Regions from separate parts of the Homo sapiens genome. Here region 1 is linked to region 2. The links come from fine-mapping of genetic effects on gene expression. A gene starts in region 2. The other region holds a variant in brackets. All regions are shown on one strand. Distances are from middle to middle. Region 1 overlaps EPN2 (epsin 2). Region 2 holds the start of RNF112 (ring finger protein 112).

What was found. PIP is the estimated chance that this variant, and not a neighbour inherited with it, causes the effect. A credible set is the group of variants that fine-mapping cannot tell apart.
Region 1: its variant is the best candidate, but not a certain one, in a credible set for the expression of RNF112 in whole blood (GTEx, PIP 0.61).

What each region holds. Positions count from the first base shown.
Region 1 is chr17:19,307,656-19,312,034 of GRCh38, forward strand. EPN2 (epsin 2) reads left to right here. Exons shown (of 11, transcript NM_014964.5): 5 at 2,230-2,342. Among named protein-coding and RNA genes, the nearest start is that of EPN2-AS1, 3.6 kb to the left of the region's middle. RefSeq lists enhancers at 1,267-2,183, 2,184-3,099. The variant C/G (reference allele first, on the strand shown) is at 2,367.
Region 2 is chr17:19,409,320-19,413,698 of GRCh38, forward strand. It overlaps RNF112 (ring finger protein 112), which reads left to right and starts at 1,913. Exons shown (of 14, transcript NM_007148.5): 1 at 1,913-2,143; 2 at 2,311-2,351; 3 at 3,179-3,464; 4 at 3,619-3,825; 5 at 3,961-4,092; 6 at 4,258-4,362. The coding sequence starts at 2,090.

The DNA of each region.
Region 1 (4,379 bases), 100 kb before region 2:
ATTTATTGCTATATGTTTTGTGTGTTTTTAAGAATTTCATGACAGGGTGATGCCTCTGCTTGGCAACCTCACATGGTAGAGAAGTTCCCAGTCTCCTGCCCGGCCCCACCTCAGCCCTCTGCCCAGAAGCAGCCTCTTTCTACCTCCCCTGGTTCTTCTGTGGATCCCGTCTGTGGCCTGAATTGCATTTAGGCCTCTTCCCCTGTTTTATTCACCATAGCCATGGCCCAGCTATCTGAAAGCCTCCTTTGTCAGGAATTATTCCTAACCTTTTAGTTTCTCTCAAAGAGGAAAACCCTAAGAAGCAAATTTAGATTGGAAAGTAAGGCAGAAGCAACACCTAGGTGAATGAATCCTGCTAGTTAGGTTTCCTAAAATAGATGTAATGAAAGAAGGAAGTAAACTAATACACAATTAGAACATTTATTTATTTTTTGAGATGCAGTCTTGCTCTTTTGCCCAGGCTGGAGTGCAGTAGCTTGATCTTGGCTCACTGCAACCTCTGCCTTCTGTGTTCAAGCAATTCTCCTGCCTCAGCCTCCCAAGTAGTTGGGATTACTGGCGCCCGCCACCACACCCAGCTAATTTTTGTGTTTTTAGTAGAGACCGGGTTTTACCATTTTGGCCAGGCTTGTCTAGAACTCCTGGCCTCAGGTGATCCGCCCGTCTCAGCCTCCCAAAGTGCTAGGATTACAGGCATAAGCCGCCATGCCCGGCACAATTAGAACATTTTAAAATGACCCGTTAACCATGAAATTGAATTCTGTAGTTGTCCATCTGTCGACCTGTGCATGCACCTGTCTGTGCATGCATGTAAGCCTCCACCCAACAGGTGTTTGTCAGCCAGGGGTGAGTGCTACAAGGGAGAGGTGCAGAGGTGCAGAGTCTGACACAGCATCAGGATGGAGGGGAAGGACCAGGTCCGGGAAGCCGAGCTCTGACTACAAAAGAGGAGGTGGGTGCGCTGAGGGAACAGCCTGCACGGAGACCCGGGAGGAGGACAGGGCAAGGAACCATCTAAAGCAGTAGCTCCAAATCTCTCAGAGGGCAGGTCTTGTTCTGAGAGTTTTAGAGAAGCTATGGACCCTTCCTGAAACGGGGGCAGAGGTGGGCACATACTTCTAAAACTACAATAATTTCTAAAAGCATTTAGATTCCCTGATCGTGAAACATCCTGATGGCTGTGTAAGCCCCAGCACCCAGCACCATGGTTTATGTTGTGAATGTTAAGACTCCCGTGGGGTTTGTTACATCAGCTAGGAGTTCACATCTCATTCATTCAATAAAAACTGTCTTTCCAGGAGCTGCTTAGAAGTATTTAAACTAGCTAAGTGCACAGCAAAAGTGTCTGCATTTTTATCTGCATTTCTTTCTAATCAGTGTACAAAGCTGCTTACAGAACGAAAATGTTTGGGGTCACTGCAGAAATGGGCGGGCTTCATTTTCCATGATCTCGTAGTAACACTACGAGAGACAAAGGTCAACTCTTTTTTTTTTTTTTTTTTTGAGACGGAGTCTCGCTCTGTCACTAGGCTGGAGTGCAGTGGCGAGATCTTGGCTCACTGCAACCTCCATATCCCGGGTCTCTAAGTGATTCTCCTGCTAGCTGGGATTATAGGCACACGCCACCATGCCCAGCTAATTTTTGTATTTTTAGTAGAGATGGCGTTTCACCATGTTGGCCAGGATGGTCTCGATCTCTTGACCTTGTGATCCGCCCGCCTCGGCCTCCCAAAGTGTGAGGATTATAGGCGTGAGCCACCGCGCCTGGCCTCAAAAGTCAGCTCTTGAATGTTGGTGTGCCTGGAGTGGAGTCTTTGGTCTCCAGATGCCCTCCACCTGTTTGAAGGATGCTCTTTGGTTCATCTGTTCAAGAGCTATACTTTGGGTCTTTGAGTTAGTTCCTTTTTTGGAGCACTGCAGATCTGCCGTGAAGACTGAGGTTCTGATCCTTGTGAGGCCTGATGGCTGGGGCTTGCATACCCAAAGGCATCTTCTCTTGGTTGGTACCAGGGGACTTCTGTAGTTGGGAAAGCTACGTTTGACTGTCACTTGATTTTAACATTCAAATATTTGTAAGCCTTTCCTTTCCTCTGCCTGCATTGTTGGGCTACTGCTGGACCTTGCGGGTTTGAGATGGGAATGGAATGTGGTCTGCCCAGGAAACTGCTGTGCAGGAGCTGTATCAGCCTTGTCTTTTGCATATGATGACTTGGTCTTCCCCAACAGCCACCTCCCCGCGAGTGTCCTCCGAGCTGGAGCAAGCCCGGCCCCAGACTAGTGGAGAAGAGGAGCTTCAGCTGCAGCTGGCACTTGCCATGAGCAGAGAAGTGGCTGAGCAGGTCAGTGCCCCAGGCAGGTCTGCA[C/G]TGCATTGACTGCCCATGCTCAGGGTGGAGTGTGGCTCACTGGGAAGAAGATGGCAGACACAGCCCTGTCTTCAAAACATTTCAGATATGCTTGCTGAGATGGCATTTCATGCTGCCGTAAGTGTGTATTCTTGTCACCCAGTGTCCCTCCCAGTCAGGGAGGGATCCCATGCAAAGTTACATTTAGGAAAGATTTTCTAGGAAGTCATTGCCAAGGAAAGAAACCAGTTAAAAATGCTTCCCAGAAACACTTGTGCAGACACGTGTCTGGGCTTTCCCTGAGTGAGCTGAGCCTGCACAGGCTCTTTGAAGGGTGGCATGCAGGGTGGGCGCAGGGATGCAGGCCTGAGGGGCAGGAGCCAGCCCAGCCCCCGCCAAGCACTTTGACCTGTAGCAAGAGATTTGCAAAAAACAAAGGCTGGGAAAAAATGCTCCCGAAATGAGAGTGCTTGTGTTTTGATGATGGAAGTATGTATAGTTTTAGTTTTTTTCAGTTCCCATTTTTCTTTTCTTTTCTCTTTTCTTTTCTTTCTCTCTTTCTCCTTCTTTCTTTTTTTTTTTTTTTTTTTTTTTTGAATCAGAGTCTCACTCTGTCACCCAGGCTGGAGTGCAGTGGTGCAATCTTGGCTCCCTGAGACCTCCGCGTCCTGGGTTCAAGTGATTCTCGTGCCTCAGCGTCCCGAGTAGCTGGGATTTCAGGCGCGTGCCACCATGCCCGGCTAATTTTTGTATTTTTAGTAGAGACAGGGTTTCACCATGTTGGTCGGGCTGGTCTCAAACTTCTGACCTCAAGTGATCTGCCCACCTCGGCCTCCCAAAGTGCTGAGAGTACAGTCTTGGGCCACCGTGCCTGGCCCCCATTTTTCTTTAGTAAGCATGCATTACTTTACAACAGCGAGAAGGGAAAGGAGCAATTAGAGTGGCCTTACAAATTGTCAAGCCTTTGGTTGCAGTTATCAGGGCTGTCTCCAATGACCTTTGGTTAAAAAAGGTAGATGGGACCAGGGGCAGCACAGGGATTCCTCTCCTCTATTAGAAGTTGGTGTTCAGAGAGGAATACTGGGGATAGTTAGATTTGAGTACTGACAAGTTCATCCCGGCATTGTTTGTGTGTCTATAACTGGCAACATTCTAAAGCTCAGTGACAGTGGGCAATCTCAGTTGTGGCCTCTCTGTCCCTGCAGTGGGAAACAGGCCACCAGTAACTGCCCAGGTGGATGCATGTGGCTTCATGGCCAGCAGCCCAGGAAGAAGGTGCGTGGTAGCATCCACTGAGAAACATAGGGACAGACGGACGGTTTGAGCCCATTTTAGTTAATATTTATAATAAAATATAAGGGAGCAAGTTCAAACTCCCGTGCTGATCAGTAGTGGCATTGTCCCTGTGAATAGCTACTGTGTAGCAGCCTGGGTAATACCATGAGACCCTATCTCTTAAAAACAAGAAAAGAAAAAATACAAGGAATATATTATTTATATTTAATTATTATATTATATAAAAGCTTAGGACAACCCTGTCTTTTGCATATGGTGACTTTGCCTTAAATAAAGATAGTGAATCATTTCTGTTAGGAATCATAGAAATATGCAGCCATTTTCCGGAAGCATACACAGTGGAGGTGGAATGATACGTGATTTTTATCTTCTTTCTAATTCCTTTTTGGGTTGTCAGATTTGTGTTTTATAAGGACACACATTGCTTCTATAAGTAGAATTTATAAAGCCAGTTTCATTTTGAGAAAAAAATATTTTAGATTAAGCATTCCCTTTCCCCAGTTTGGTGGTACCTGAGCCATAGTCTCCCTGGTGTGACCCCACAGGGGTCCAAGTCACAGGAGTCGCCATGAGGGAGGGGCCTTCTGGGTACACACACATTTGGGATTTGAAAGTAATTGTGTTTTACAAGTAGTTTTGAAATCTTCCTTTGAAATACTGCATCATACAATGTGCATTTCCTGTTTCTGGCCAGTGTGGCTTTGTTCTGTACAGTGATGTTATTACAATTACCAGTTT
Region 2 (4,379 bases):
GGGTTCTGTGTCCCCTCTCCTCTGGGCCCTGTACCTGTGGTTTGCCCTGCCTTGACAACCTTTTTCTACCTCCTTGCTTATCAGGACAGCCTGACACCCCTCCTCACCCTCCCCGCATCCAGGTTCTCACCCAGATCATAGCAATGCCTTTTAATTGTCCAGTTGGGATCTTGGGGAGGATGGAGCTTTGTCTCTCTTGTTTCCAGCTGTACTGCAGTGTGAGACACAGTACCTGGTGCTCAGTAAGTATCATTAAGTGAAGACTGATTGTCCCATCTGCTTCCTCACATCTTTGCCTGGTGATGAGCAAATGGAAGCTCAGAGAGGGCAGTGACTCACCAGCATTTCATGCTGGGATGGAGGCAGGTTTAGAGCTTGAATCTGAGTCCAGCGCCCACGCTTTCTCTCCTGCAAGGATGAAAGGCTACAGGGGTTGAGAAAACCCTCCCTTCTGCCCTGAAGGCAGAGCTGTGGCACGGCTCAGGCTTGCTTCCTCATCCCCTGAGTGTGAGGCTTTGCTGCCAACACACAGGGGCTTGTCCCACCTGGGGCAGGAGGAGGCAGAGTCTATGGCACTGCTTCTCTGAATCTGATTGATTCAGCCCCACAATCTCAGGCCCTCCAGACACCAAAATGAACAAGATCCAGCCCCAGCTTCAGGGGTGTCTCCACCTGCTGAAGGTGGTCTCTGCTGAACTTTTCTAGGTTCTGAATCCCACCTCACCCCAACCCTTCTGCATCCTAGCTCATAGGATGTACGAATGACTCCCGTGCCTGGACTAGTGGCTTTACATAGGTAATGGTGGCTCCTCAGAGCACAGAGAGGTGCAGTGGAGTCCCAGAGCCCCTGAGCCGAGAATCAAGCCCAGATCTGCCTGGCTCTGAAGCCTGGGCTGCGCCAAGCCTATCACATATCCCAGCCCTCAACTGTCCAAGAACAAGACCGCACCCAGTTGGGAGGGGTGAGGAAAGGAGGCTCTAGGGAGGCCACAGCACCTGCACTGGGCCTAAGAGGGTGTCCCAGGAGGGATGAGAAGGAGCAGAGCAGCCAAGCCAGGGTGCAGAGGCAGGGAAGAGTGGGGCGAGAGAAGGGTGGAAGGAAGGTTCAGCCCAGTCCGCAGGCCGGAGAGTTTGGATTTTGATCTGATGGTAGTAGGGAGACACAAAAGGTGTTTGCGCAGTGTGAGGTCATCTGTGCTTGGGGAGCCTATGCTGGCTGTGCACTGGGGAGTGGAAGGGAGGCAAGGAGCCCAGTCAAGAGGCCATTAGAAGGTCCAGAGGTGGCTCATAGTTTTGATAGATTTCATCCTGCTCAAGTTTGAGGCAGAGTGAAAGCTATTGGGAGGGAAATACACCAGAGGACACGGAGGGCCCATGAGTGCTGAAGAAGGCTGCAGCTGGGTTGGGCGTCGATGACATAAACCTGAGAGAGAGCAGGAGGATGTGCAGGGCCATGTGAAGTAGGGTCTGCATTTGGGGGCTCTGTACATAGTAGGTACTCAGTAACTGTTCATTGGATGAATGGATGAATAACTCCTTGTCTCTGGGTCAGCTCTGGTCTTACCCTCTCCTGTTTCTCACACCTCTTCTCTTTGCCCACCCTGTCCTGTGGCCCTGGGGAGACCTCAGCTGGCCCAGTAGAGGCAGTGCTGGCCCATGGTTCTGCCGGAGGCGCCTCCATGTTTGCGGGTGCACCGCACGCCTTCTCCCTCTCTGTCCCCCTCCCCCTCCCTGTCCTTATCTTTCCCTTCTGTCTCCATGGCGACTCACCACCTCGGCTTGCCTGCATCCCAGCCTCTGCCAGGGATTCTGAGCCGGGCTCCATCCCTCCCTCCTCGGAGCCCTGCTACCCGCAGCCGTGTCTCCTCCCCCTGGGGTGAGTCCAGCAGCAGCCTCCTCTTTCCTGACTGTCACATTTCTTTTCCAGCTCTGACCGGGAGTCAGCTCCTCGGGGATACCATCCCCCGACCTCACCTTCTACCTACCGCAGCCTGCTAGCCTTTCCGGGAGAAAAGGCATCCTTACCTCTGGTTGAAGGTCTCGGGGCCTCCCCCTCTGCATCCGGACCCTCTCCCCATCCCAGCCTCCCATGCCAAGGCCCGCCTTGTCAGTCACTTCCTTTTGTCATCGGCTTGGCAAACGGGCAAGTCTTCAGTCCTAAGATCGGGAAGGAGAGTGGGGTGGGAAGGGCCCTCCTTGGGCTGGGGGATGGGCCGGGGGTGGGGAGGATGAGGGGTCCCTGGAAATCCAGGGTGAAGATAGAAGTCTGGATTATGTTCTAAATCTTTTTTTTTTTTTTTTTTCTCCAAGGAGAGAAAACAGAGCTTCATGGGAAACAGCGGCAACAGTTGGTAAGTAGCAGGGCCTTCCAGGCTGGGATGGGTGCAGTGAGGCCAGGCAGGTCAGTTGAAATGGCCGGTCCTGGAACACAGAGCCCGGCAGCCCAGCCGGGAGGGCTGTCCGCCTGAGGCTGGATCCGCCAGGCTGTGGAGGGAGGGACAGGAAGAAGCAGGTGGGTGCTGCAGGGAGGCAGATGCCAGCTCAGAGCAGAGAGCGGAAGGAATCTTCTAAGATCCAGAGCCATCTGCCCAACTGCAGCACAGGCTGATGGCTTCTCCTCACTGTCCCTGTAGCATGGGGTTGTGGAGGGTATCATCCCTGGGGGCCTGGCTGAAGTCAGCACCTCATGGAGGGAGCCCCGCTGTAGAACGCCGGGAGAGGCTCTTCCCAAGCATTTGCACCAGGCACTGTGCAGACAGCTGCACACGCCTCCTCTCGGATGGCCACCCCAACGGCCCCATGAGGGGTATTGCTATCCTCTCCATTGGGACAGTTAGGAAATTGAGGCCCAGAGAGGGGAAGGAACTTGCTTGCATTTGCATGGCTGGGATGTGGTGGAGTCCATTCCACTCAGATTTTCTCCCTCTCAGACTCTCTCACCATTGCTCTGCTGCCCCCACTCTGAGGCCCCCAGGTCCTAGGACACATGTCAGTGAGGAACGGGCAGAGCTTGGCCTCTCTGGGAGCAGCTCCGCCTGTCCATGGAGGCACTGATGGAAATTGGGTTGGCACAAAGGGACCTCCACTCCCAAGCCATCAGTCTTCCACCACAACCCTGGCCGGTACCCCCTGCCCCCAATAGACATCCTGCTTTTCAATGGCCTGTTTTGCCCCACAGGTCCCATACACCTTTCCCCAAGTTGGAGCTAGGCCTGGGGCCCCAGCCCATGGCGCCCCGGGAGCTCCCTACCTGCTCCATCTGCCTGGAGAGGTTGCGCGACCCCATCTCGCTGGACTGTGGCCACGACTTCTGCATACGGTGCTTCAGCACACACCGTCTCCCGGGCTGTGAGCCGCCCTGCTGTCCTGAGTGCCGGAAGATATGCAAGCAGAAGAGGGGCCTCCGGAGCCTGGGCGAGAAGATGAAGCTCCTGCCGCAGCGGCCGCTGCCCCCTGCACTGCAGGTCTGGGGACTGGGCCTAATCAGTCAGACCCAAGAGGAGGGGGTGGCTTTGGCCCTATTCTAGAACATCAGGACACAGAGCTCCAGGCTGAACACATTCCAGGGTCAGGAGCTGGTCCTGGATGCTCAGGGGCCCCTCTCTTCTCCTGGCCCAGGAGACGTGTCCTGTGAGGGCGGAGCCGCTGCTGCTGGTTCGCATCAATGCCTCTGGGGGCCTCATCCTTAGGATGGGGGCCATCAACCGCTGCCTGAAGCACCCTCTGGCCAGGGACACCCCAGTCTGCCTCCTCGCTGTCCTGGGGGAGCAGCACTCAGGGAAGTCCTTCCTCCTCAACCATTTGCTTCAGGGCTTGCCGGGCCTGGTGAGGGCGGGGCGGGGCAGGAGGGAGGCGGGGAGCAAGGATGGGGGTTCCTGCCTGGGGGAAGCTGGGTCTGGTATTCCGGTCTGTGGGGACAAGGAACCGACCAACTGATGCTCTCCCTTCTCTCCCCTGCAGGAGTCTGGTGAGGGCGGCCGGCCAAGAGGAGGAGAGGCATCCCTGCAGGGCTGCAGGTGGGGCGCCAATGGCCTCGCCAGGGGCATATGGATGTGGAGCCACCCCTTCTTGCTGGGGAAAGAAGGGAAGAAGGTGAGGGGGGAAGTGGCAGAAGGAGGTCAGGGATGGGAAGGGGAATCAAGAAGGGCGTCTCTGGGGTGAGGATAGAAGATGGGGATGGGACGGGGCAGGGTTGGGAAGAATGTGGGAGAACAAGGCAGGCCTGGCCCCTTGGGTCTTTCCCTACCCCCTGCATAGGTGGCGGTGTTCCTGGTGGACACAGGGGATGCCATGAGCCCTGAGCTGAGCAGGGAAACAAGGATCAAGCTCTGTGCTCTCACCACGATGCTGAGCTCCTACCAGGTGATGGGGGGCGCTGA